Homo sapiens: one gene and its partners. The protein of the gene in region 2 interacts with the protein of the main gene of each other region in a pairwise test. Each region holds a gene or a part of one and is shown on either strand. Other genes may lie near its edges.

Region 1 (3,752 bases), on a different chromosome or scaffold from region 2:
CCAGCATGCAAATGAAAGAAGAAAAAGATTAGGAACGCAGCTTCCGAAAAGAAGGCAGATAATTATCTCTCTTTTCTAAAGGTCCTATAGGCTTTTAGTCTACATGAGGAGTTATTTGTTATTTTCTCCTTTACTTAGGATGTTTTCATTTTAAGGGAGACTCTAATTGCCAAAATAGAGAAATCAATCTGAAAAACACTAACAAAAAATCTTTTTCTTTTTTTTTCTATCATAGACAAGCTGGGTACAGCGTCATGTGTCTGTAGTCCCAGTTACTGGGAGGCTGAGACAGGAGGATGGCTTGTGCCCAGGAGCTTGAGGCTGCAGTGAGCTATGATCATGCCAACTTGGGTGACAGAGCAAGACCCCATCTTTAAAAAAAAAGAAAATATATACACATCTATACACACACATGCATATATAAATGTATCATAGACACTGAGAAACTACAGTTAGAATGCTACTGCCAGATTGCAGGATGTGTCCAGAGAGGGAGAAAAAAAAAATGTACTTATGTTTCCATAGCTCTATGGATTTGGGAACAAGCAGTGAGTAAAATCTTAAAAACAAAACAAACAAAAAAAGCACACCTAAATGATAAGGAAAAAAAAACTCTTCATAATAAATAAATATCTTTCATCTTTAGGTGAAACTGGATCTAAATGCACGGAAGGCAAGGTTTCCTGTTTTAAATCCATAATAAAATAATAAATATACATAATATAAATAATTAATTTTAAAAATCCTGTTTTATTATTTCTTAATAAAGCCAATTCTATAAAGCAATGTTTACCATGCCAGAACTTCTCATCTTATCTAGTTTCCTAGCTCACTGATAAGAAAGGCTTCTGGGATGGAACAAGGTCCCATGCACTGGCCTGGATTTAAAGGGACAGTGTTGGTTATTTTCCTAATGCTGCATCTTCTGAAACAAACAGCTTTCTTGTATACCCCAGCAAATCGCAGTGGAAGAATCTCCCTTTTCACGAAAAGCAGAGCAGAGCTGCTACACTATGCCGTGTGAAACCTGCATATAGGGGCCACCTGCACCCACTGAGGAGGACACATGGCTGTTGAATATAGCTTTGCATTCAACAGAGACCTCCATACACACATTGAATAGTAGCCTTTTATCGACAGGTATTCTTTCAACACAGGTGGGCTCAAAAACAGATTTTACTATACTGTGTATTTCTCATCTAAAATCTTTGCTATTATGCCTGGCACACCAGAAAATGCTCTGAAAAAAAGAGGTCAATGTGCCAACCTCCAAACTAGACTGGTATATCAGATAAGGAAAATTAAAGGAAGCACTAGGGACCAAGTTTCTCCAGGACGCTGCTGCTCTCTGCCTGCCCCATCATTAGAGGTGCAGACAAGCTCTGAGGTCTGCAACGTGCTGCCCAGCCACTGCACGAGTAGACCACTTCTCACCCACTATGCGCAAAGCGCCTTGAAGCACTATATAAATGCTAGTTGTTGTTATAAATGTATCCCACGAGTCAGGTGGCTCAGAAAATAGCAAATTCTTATTGTTTTATTTTAAAGAATCAATAATTTTCATACTTGGTCAAAAGTCAAAATGCTTCATAGCTTAGTTTTAGGATTCTTAGGTACGGTAAGAATCTAAACGGATTAGACAACAAATGATGATAGGAACACATTCTTCCTATCTCAAATGTCAAACAACAACCGCGGAAAGGAATGTACCCTGGGATGCCACTGGAGGTTCCATGTGCTTCTGTGACCCCGACACTGACCAACCACAGCATATCTTGGCTGGTCACATTTATAAAAAATAAAAGTGAAGCAGCCATTCTTGAACACTAATGGTTTGGCTTAATAGACTCTTGTATCCAATAAAAATTGAGTTTTAAATGCCACCCTTTTTAGCGAGAGTTAAAATAAATTTAAAAAGGTGTTAAGAAAGGCTTCTGGGATGGGGGGAAGCCCCAAGATTGGCCTGGGTTTTCTGATGAAAAATGCATGAAGTCTCAGCACATAGCGGAATGAGTGCTGGTAAACGACAACTTTTCTAAGCAAGAGGCTGGGTTATCCAATCTCATGGCTAGCCCACTGAGGAGCCTTGACAGGAATGGACACAACTGCTTTCTTTGTGTACCTTTTAAAGTGTAATATCCTAAGAAAAATTATCCTTTTCTTTTGTAATTTGATTTGATGTTGCTATTTTACTGAATTAAAGCTTTTTTTTTTATCCCAACGAGTAAATTTATCATGCTACACACTGATAAGGGCTGCAAGCATGATTATGATTTCCATAAAGCAACAAGAAAGCGCTCAGTACCTGGGAAGCCCAAGCCACATGACCCATGATGGGGACCAACTGGCATCATACTCATTTTCGCTGAAAGTACTCGGCTGCTCCTCCGCGTTCTGAGTCGCCTCCTCAACAATCTGGACCTCAAGTGCTTTAAGGGCAACAGCAGGGGACGCGGCACTGGCTTTCAGCATTGCAACTGCCTCACTGTGACTTAAATTGGTCAAATCAATGCCGTTGATATTTAGCAACACATCACCTGTTCAGATGAAGAAACAAGAAAAATGAGCTGAGCCACTGAGTTTTCACCTGCAAATCTTGTTGTTTATAAACTAAGCAACAAAAGTTAGTTCCCCCAACTCTGATGAGATAAGGTATAATAATAAATGGCATTTATTATTTCTTTGTAATTTTTATAATATTGAGAAGAAACCCAATACACAGAAAACATTCCATAATTTTAAAATAATGTCATAATACATAGAAAAAAGTGTGGCCTGAGGCACCTTGACATGATTGGAAGTTCGAATCATCAGTCTGAGTTTAGCTGTGTACAGGCCCTGGGCAGGTTCATTTCTCTTCTTAAGAGTTTCAGAGATTTCTACAATTCTGTCCAATCAAAAATCACTTGATCCTTTGCCCTTAGAAATAAATCTTTAATGTATTCTGCTTTATATTTACACAGTTCTATACATAAGGACAGCCCTGTATAGTTTATTCAGGGCAAACATCAGAATATGTACAAAGAAGCTATCCCTGGGCCCACATGAAGAAATGAAACTTGCGGTTTGAATGTCTTCCCTGTTTCAGGAAGAAAAGAACTGTTGCTCTGCTAAGTAATATAATAAAAAATGGCAATGAGGATTATATCAAAGGTTAGGAAAGGATTAGTTTTGTAGGAAGCAGACATTTGTGCTACAAAGTCTACAGAAATTTATCTCTCCCAATTTATCATCAGTTTTTCAGATTATTAAAGCAAATCATTCTCATTGTAGAAAATTTAGAAAACACAATAAAAGAACAAAAAGGAAATAAAATTACCCCAATACTACAACTGGACAAATAACCTTTACTTAATAGCAGCTTGAGAAATAATTCACATACTATTCAATTCACCCATTTAAAGAACATAATTTTATGGTTTTAATATATTCACAGTTGTGCAATCATCACTACAGTAATTTTGAGAACATTTTAATCACTCCCTCTATACCCATCATTTCCCTTCCCCAACCCTAAGCAACTACTAATCTACTTTCTGTCTCTACAGATTTGCCTCTTCTGAACATTTCATGTAAATGGAATCATACATGGTCTTTTATATCTAGCTTCTTTTACTTGCATAATATTTTCAGGGTTCATCCTTGTAATTTGTGCCAGTACTTCAGTCCTTTTCATGGCCAAATCATATTTTGCTGTATGGGTAGACCACATTCCATTGATCCATTCCTCAGCTGATGGACATTTGAGTGGT
Region 2 (3,752 bases):
TTAGTAGAGATGGGGTTTCACCATGTTGGCCAGGCTGGACTCGAACTCCTGACCTCAGGTGAATCACCCGAGTCGGCCTCCCAAAGTGCTGAGATTCTAGGCATGAGCCACCGCGCCCGGCCAAGTCAAGGCTTCTTTTACCCTGTCAGGGAGAACTCTCCGTCTCCCATCCTAAGTCCAGGTAGGAACATTTCCATGGATGGTTTGGTTTTGTTTTGTTTTGTTTTGAGATGGAATCCTGTTCTGTCGCCCAGGCTGGAGTGGGGTGGTGCAATCTCAGTTCACTGTAACCTCCACCTCCCAGGCTCAAGCGATTCTCTTGTCTCAGCCTCCCAAGTAGCACAAGCCACCACACCCAGCTAATTTTTGTATTTTTAGTAGAGACAGGGTTTCACCATGTTGGCCAGGCTGGTCTCAAACGCCTGACCTCAGGTGATCCACCCTCCTCAGCCTCCGAAAGTGCTAGATTACAGGTGTAAGCCACTGTGACCAGCCCAAGCCTACAGCACCCGGTATTCCTAGGTGGTCTCCCATCCAAGTACTAACCAGGTCCGACACTGCTTAGCTTGCGAGGTGAGACGAGGATCAGATGCTTTTAGGGTGGTATGGCCATAGATACATCCAAGGTTTTTCTTTTCTTTTCTTTTTTTATCTTTTTTTTTTTTTTTTTTTTTGAGATGGAGTCTCACTCTTCGCCCAGGCTGGAGTGCAGTGGCGCAATCTCGGCTCACTGCAAGCTCTGCCTCCTGGGTTCACGCCATTCTCCTGCCTCAGCCTCCTGAGTAGCTGGGACTACAGGCGCCCGCCACCACGCCCTGCTAATTTTTTTGTATTTTTGTAGAGACTGTGTTTCACTGTGTTAGCCACGATGGTCTCGATCTCCTGACCTCGTGATCCACCCGCCTCAGCCTCCCAAAGAGCTGGGATTACAGGCGTGAGCCACTGCACCCGGCCTCCAAGGTTTTTCAGACGGAGAACAGATCAAGGTCCACCTCCACAGATTTGCTCATCTAAGACCCAGCTCAGGCCTCCCAAGTGGGGCGGCCAGGGTGGGGGTGGGGAGGCAGAGAAGCTGGGCCCCCCAGGACTTCGGAGCTGCTTGTGCCCCACTCCCCACCTGGAGGGCAGACCACAGTGTTGGGCAGGGACAGACAGGAGGGCATCCCCACTCTACTCAACTTCCGTTGGTTCAGCCCAGTTCCCGCCCATGGCCAGAGCTTGAAGGGAGAAGCCGTCCCCTCCCCGTCCTCTCCTCCCGCAACTCCACTCCCAGCACCTGAAAACTGCAGTCACCTGTGCCTTGGCTGGGCTTTAAGGCCAGGTGACTGGGCCTTGCGGGGTTAGAAGGAGCCCTTCCGCACTTCCTCTTTTTCTTTTTTTTCTTTTGGAGACAGGGTCCTTCTTGGTGGCCCAGGCTGGAGTGCAGTGGCATGATCGTAGCTCGCTGCAGCCTCTCAACTTCCCAGATTCAGGTGATCCTTCCACCTCGGCCTCCAGAGTAGCTGGGACTACAGGCACACACCACCACACCTGGCTAATTTTTAAAATTTTGTTTTTGTAGGTTTTAAAATTTTTTGTAGAGATGTGGTCCCACTATATTGCTCAGGCTGGTTTCAAACTCCTAGGCCCAAGGTATCCTCCTGCCTCGGCCTCCCAAAGTGTTGGATTACAGGCGTGAGTCACAGAGCCCGGCCTCCACATTTTCTCGACAGGGTCCGTAAGACCTGGTTCCCAGAAAGGTGGCCGTAGAATGGCTTTGGGAGTTCAGCGTCCCCAGCTCCCTCAGTTTCCCCAGCTGCCAGGGTCCAGCCAGACTGCAAAGTTGCAAAGTTCTAAGACCCCTGCATCTCCCGCCAGCCCCGAGCCCACCAGGGCAAAGCAGCCTAAGACGGCTGTCTTCCCCCAACCCTGCTGATCGCGCGGCGCCTGGAGTAGGGTCGACCTGGGCGCGCCTGCGGCGAGGCGGGGCCGAGTCGTCCGGGGGCGGGGCGGGGCGGCTCCGGGTCTCCTGTCCCCGCCTGCCCTGACTCACCCTCGCGGCCCGCCCGGGAACTCTGCGGGAGTCGCGGCAGCTCCGCTCCCAGAGACCCAGGAGTTGGGCCCAGCGTCCCTCCCGGAACGGTGAGTAGGTGGCTCTTTGCCTCTGGACACCCCACGAGGTGGCAGGGTGGGGGTCGGGCTGGGAGTCCCCGGGTCTGGACAAGGGGCAGAGCCGCTCCAGGTGCGCCGGCCCTGTGGCCGGGGCAGGCCGTCCCGACACACCAGGAGCTGGGGTGGGGGTGCCGGCCGGTGCAAAGGGAAACCTGGCCCACGAGGTGCCCGTCCTGGGAGCCAGGCAGACGCGGCCAAGTCTCAGAGTGAAGATAAACAGGCTGAAGATAAACTTGACTTTGGGGGTCTCAACCACTTTCCCCTCCCCTTGGCATCTGGGAAGACATTGACAACTCATCCCCGGGAGACTCTCAGAGCTCCAGAACCTACCACTTGGGGTGGGTTCAACCAAGCCTGACCTCTGGTGCTCTTGAACTTACACATGTCCCAGATCTTCAAGTCTGCTGGCAGAGGCGGCTTGGAAAACCACTCGGCTGGGAATCCGCAGGCCTGGGGCCTGACCCAGGACGGGCTACAAAGATGCCACCCTCCCCCACCCTAGACCCTCAGTTTCTCCCTTGCATAAATGGTTGAGGCTCAGCCGGACACCGTGCCTTACGTCTATAATCCCAGCACTTTGGGAGGCCGAGGTGGGCAGGTCACCTGAGGTCAGGTGTTTGAGACCAGCCTGGCTAACACGGTGAAACCCCATCTCTACTAAAAATACAAAAATTAGTGGCGTGTCCCTGTAGTCCCAGCTACTGGGGAGGCTGAGGCTTGAGTACTGCTCGGACCCAAGAGGTGGAGGTTGCAGTGAGTTGAGATTGGGCCACTGCACTCCAGCCTGGGCAACAGAGCGACACTCCATCTCAAAAAAAAAAAAAGATTGAGGCCAGGCACAGTGGCTCACACCTGTAATCCCAGCACTTTGGGAGGCTGAGGTGGGAGGATTGCTTGGACTCAGAAGTTCAAGACCAGCCTGGGCAACATAGCGAGACTCCATCTCTACAAAAAATCTAAAAGTTGGCTGGGCATGGTAGCACGCACCTGTGGTCCCAGCTACTGGGGAGGCTGAGGCAGGAGGATCACTTGAGCCCAGGAGTTCGAGACTACTATGAGCTATGATCGTGCCACTGAACTCCAGCCTGGGTGACAGAGCAAGACTCTATCTCTCTCTCTCTCTCTTTTTTTTTTTTTCAAGATAGAGTCTTGCTCTGTTGCCAGGCCGGAGCGCAGTGGCACGATCTTGGCTCACGGCAACCTCCACCTCCCAGGTTCAAGCGATTCTCCTGCCTCAGCCTCCTGAGTAGCTGGGACTACAAGCATGTGGCACCATACCCAGCTAATCTTTGTATTTTTAGAGATGGGGTTTCATCATGTTGGCCAGGATGGTCTTGATCTCTTGACCTCGTGATCCACCTGCCTCAACCTCTCAAAGTGCTGGGATTACAGGCGTGATCCACTGTGTCCGTCAGGACTCTATGTCTAAAAAAAAAAAAAGGTTGGGCCTTGTTTTCTACAAAACCCCTCTTAGGGCTGAAAACTGCTGGATGTTTCTTGCTTCTTCCCTGCCTCTTAGCATGGGCTGTGGGTGTGGAGGGTCTCACTCTCCCACCCTTCCCCCAGCAGGAACTCATCACCACATTTTTTGGAGGCAAGTG
Region 3 (3,752 bases), on a different chromosome or scaffold from region 2:
TAATGTAACCAATTTGAAAAGTTTCTTTTAAACAATCTAGACAAGAGTCTAGCCTGTCTTTTGTGCAGAACGTTAGTACGTGGCAAAATGAAATTCCCACCCCAGAATGTCAGCTCTGAGGGGGCAGCGATTTTTTACCTGTTTTGTCCATCACTGTATTTCCAGTGCCTAAAAGAGTACTTGGTACCTAGTAGGTACTCAGTAAATATGAATGTTTAAATTCAAAGATGTATCTCACTGATGTTAGGAAACAGTGTCTTCATTTAACATTCTAAAAAGTTATTGAATTTTATAGCTTTATCACGGACAGGCTCAAGTATTTTTTAAAACTCTACCTAACTAAAAAAATATTAAACCTAAATGTAAATCTTCCTGGAAAAACCTTTTTTCAGAGGTTGATTTGGGCATAATAAATTTAACAGACAATTTGAAGTAGCTAGATTTCCCTTCTAAATTTTAAGAAGTCCTATATAGAGAATGACTGAATTATAAATTAATAAGCAATAAACATCACATTCATATAATTATACATAGGGGAAATGTTTTCTTATAGTACAGTTCTAAGGTGCTTTCAGTGAAGAAGACCCCAAAGTCACTATCAAAAATGTCAAACATGACATCCTATTTGGTAGAACTGAGTAGAAAATTAAACAGTGGAAATAGACCACAGCTTATTTTACAGTACCAATGACAGATGAACGATTGACTAAATTGTTCTTAACATTTCTCAAAATGCATTTATATTTAAATTAAATGTAACTCAAGTTCAACTTTTATTTTGACCTGTTGGGTTTTTTATGTGTGTGTGTGGTTTTTTTTTTGTTTTTTTTTTTGAAAGCACAGAAGGCCATTTTCTGACTAAAAGCCACCACCGTCATTCTTGGAAAATGGCAAAAATTAAATCTGCTTTAGGGCTTGCTCCACTAGGACGGCTTTAAACTGCTTAGTAAAGGAATGTGCTGAAGAGTGGCTGGACGAAGCTTCTGTCTTTCAGAGTGCTGCCTATTTCAATACACCAAAGATTCAGCTATATATATGTGTGTGTGTATATATATATATATATAATACATTCTATCTTACCCTAATCATGTATACATAGTCCCTTGACACCTCTACTATTCATTAAACAATGATAAATAACCATAACATGCCCTTACCTGTAATGCTTTCAAGATAACACAACTTTGGTAACACTTGCTTTCTAAGGGGGAATCATTAATCAATCACATGCCTTTGGTTGACACCATCAGTCCTCCAAAGGGCTACTTATGGCTCTCTGTCCTAGGATACTGGTGTCCTACTACATGTGCTGACATTTGCAGGAGGTAAAGCTTTCGCTTTCAGGAAGTCGAAGAGAAGAGACACGTGTGAAAACATGGTACATAAAACATGACTAACTTTCTTGATTACATTCCAGTGCAATGATCTGGAGTTAACGGGGCAGTTTGTTTCCCAAAAGGTAGCATTACTTTTGTAATATGCTTTTCAAGGCATTAGAAATTTCAGGTTTCCCTGAAGAAGTACTTTGTTTGCTGATACAAGGTGAGCCAAAGGGGTGGTGAAAAGAACACACAAAAAAGGATCTTTGTCTAACCCAGAAAGGTTGAGAAATTTGCACTGATACTTAAGTTCTGAACTCCAGAGGGCTGCTAATCAGAGCTGGGATCATTTTGCAAGACAGCCTTACTTTTTCCAAAGTAATTTATATTTAGTTGTTGATAACCAAAAAAATGTCACAAGAGTAATACCTACTGTAAAAGTGAGGTTAGAAGATTCCCTGGGTCTTGTGACCTAGGTTAAATGAAGTATATAACTACAATAGATTTTGTTTTTGTTTTGCTTTTGGAAGTTCTGTGCAAAAGCTACCATTCACAGGATTAACGAATACCTTTACATATGCTAGTTTTTTAAGTGTCTGTTTGATTTGCAAAATTAGTTTAGCTACATAAATCCTGTCCCTTAAGCCATAGTTCACAGATGTAAAACTGCAGTTTTTATAGATTCAGTAGAAGAGTTTTTTTTAACCCTAAAGGTGAAATACAGAAATTGGATAAGTCATTTTTAAGGAAATTGTTACATTCAGAAATAACCTTGGAAAGTTCACCAATGATTCCTTCTGGCATAAAAACTCTAGTCATAATCTGGTCCCGCATTGAGAAATCCATTCCAGTTTATAGTGCAAGACCATGGAAGCGGGTATCCACCTGCCCACCATTACTGTAAGTATCGATAGACTTTGAAACAGTGATTTCCAGAGTCTGCAACCACAACATGACCATCTGAAGTTAGGGCCAGGCCTTGGGGGCCATAGAGTGGGTCAGCAGATGTGTTAATGTAGGACAAAAATGATCCACTCCCATCAAAAACCTGTAAACAAATAGGAAGTCAGAATGTTATAGGAGAAGTTATAGTAATATGCTGAACATGGGTTAGAAAACTCTTGATGCTAATGTTTTTCTGTTTCTTTCTTTCTTTTTGACAGGGTCTCACTCTGACACCCAGGCTGGTGTGCCGTGGTGTGAAGACAGCTTACTGTAACCTTTAATTCGTAGGCTCAAGCGATTCTCCTGATTCAGCCTCCCAAAGTGCTAAGATAATAGCCATGAGCCACCATGCCCAGTATATATGCTTTTATATTTAAAACATTAGCATAAGCCAGGTGCAGTGGTTTATATCTGTAATGCCAGTACTTTGGTAGGTGAAGGTGGGAGGATCCCTTGAGGCCAGGAGTTTAAGAACAGCCTGAGCAAAATAGCGAGACCCCGTCTCTTAAAAAAAAAAAGCAGAAAAAAAAAAAAGCAAAACAAAAAAGCACTTAAGTAATCATCTATCCATCTATGGATATGTCTTTGTTTATGTCACTATCATATCTATAATCCTACTCTCCACTTACCTTGCTTTCTCTCCTCTCCCCATCTATTTCCAGGTGGTGGAGAAGAATATGCCATTGGCTGCTAGCTTTCACTTGTATTCCTATAGTGGTCACAACAAATATTGGGTGGGAAGGGCCCTAGATGGTGCTTAAAAATGAATGAAGCTTATTGTTCATGTTAAATCTTCACTTATTCCACTTCCAGCCTCACATCCTTTTCCTCCCCCACACTTATAAGGGGAAAAATCAGCAACTAGATGATGGAAGAATGTTCCTGAGTCATAATAGCAATGAGACAGTAGAAATTATTTTTTCCTTTTTAGAAAAGAGTGGGTTGTAAGAAGTCAATGGTTCAACAGGTAAAGCCATCCCCTGGTATCCCAGGAGACTGATACCAAAATCTTCAGATTCTCAAGTCCTTTATATAAAATAGCCTAGTATTTGCACCTAACCTGTGCACATCCCCCCATATATTTTAAATCATCTCTAGATTACTTCTAATACCTAGAGCATGCTATATAATGTAAATAATATTATGTATTTTTACAATTCGTATTATTTTTAATCATTGTATTTAACAAATTATTTTTCCTGAAATTTTTGATCTGTATTTGGTTGAATTCACAAATGTGAGATTTGGGGGTACGGGGGGCTGATTATATGTTTGGATGTGAAATCACTTTCTTTTGGTCTATCGGTTTCTGCTTTGTTACTTCTGTTAAATTTTTATTTTGAAATAATTATAGATTCATAGGAAGTGGCAAAGATAGTAGAGAAAGGTCCTGTGTACTCTTCACTCAGTTTCCTCCAATGGTCACATCTTCTATAATTATGGTACCACACAAAACCCAATACATTGACTTTGGGTTGTGTGTGTACA

The links.
Region 1: the proteins of LRRC8E (region 2) and LNX2 interact in a two-hybrid assay, tested with the Homo sapiens proteins (3 studies listed by BioGRID and IntAct).
Region 3: the proteins of LRRC8E (region 2) and TRIM2 interact in binary tests that used the Homo sapiens proteins (3 or more experiments, as listed by UniProt).

What each region holds. Positions count from the first base shown.
Region 1 is NC_000013.11:27,550,903-27,554,654, forward strand, and holds part of LNX2 (ligand of Numb protein X 2), read right to left. Parts: intron 2,538-3,752; coding exon 2,306-2,537; intron 1-2,305.
Region 2 is NC_000019.10:7,886,480-7,890,231, forward strand, and holds the start of LRRC8E (volume-regulated anion channel subunit LRRC8E), read left to right. Parts: upstream 1-2,030; 5' UTR 2,031-2,121; intron 2,122-3,752. UniProt on the Homo sapiens protein: Non-essential component of the volume-regulated anion channel (VRAC, also named VSOAC channel), an anion channel required to maintain a constant cell volume in response to extracellular or intracellular osmotic changes.
Region 3 is NC_000004.12:153,333,429-153,337,180, reverse strand, and holds part of TRIM2 (tripartite motif-containing protein 2), read right to left. Parts: intron 2,368-3,752; coding exon 2,215-2,367; 3' UTR 1-2,214. UniProt on the Homo sapiens protein: UBE2D1-dependent E3 ubiquitin-protein ligase that mediates the ubiquitination of NEFL and of phosphorylated BCL2L11. Plays a neuroprotective function. May play a role in neuronal rapid ischemic tolerance.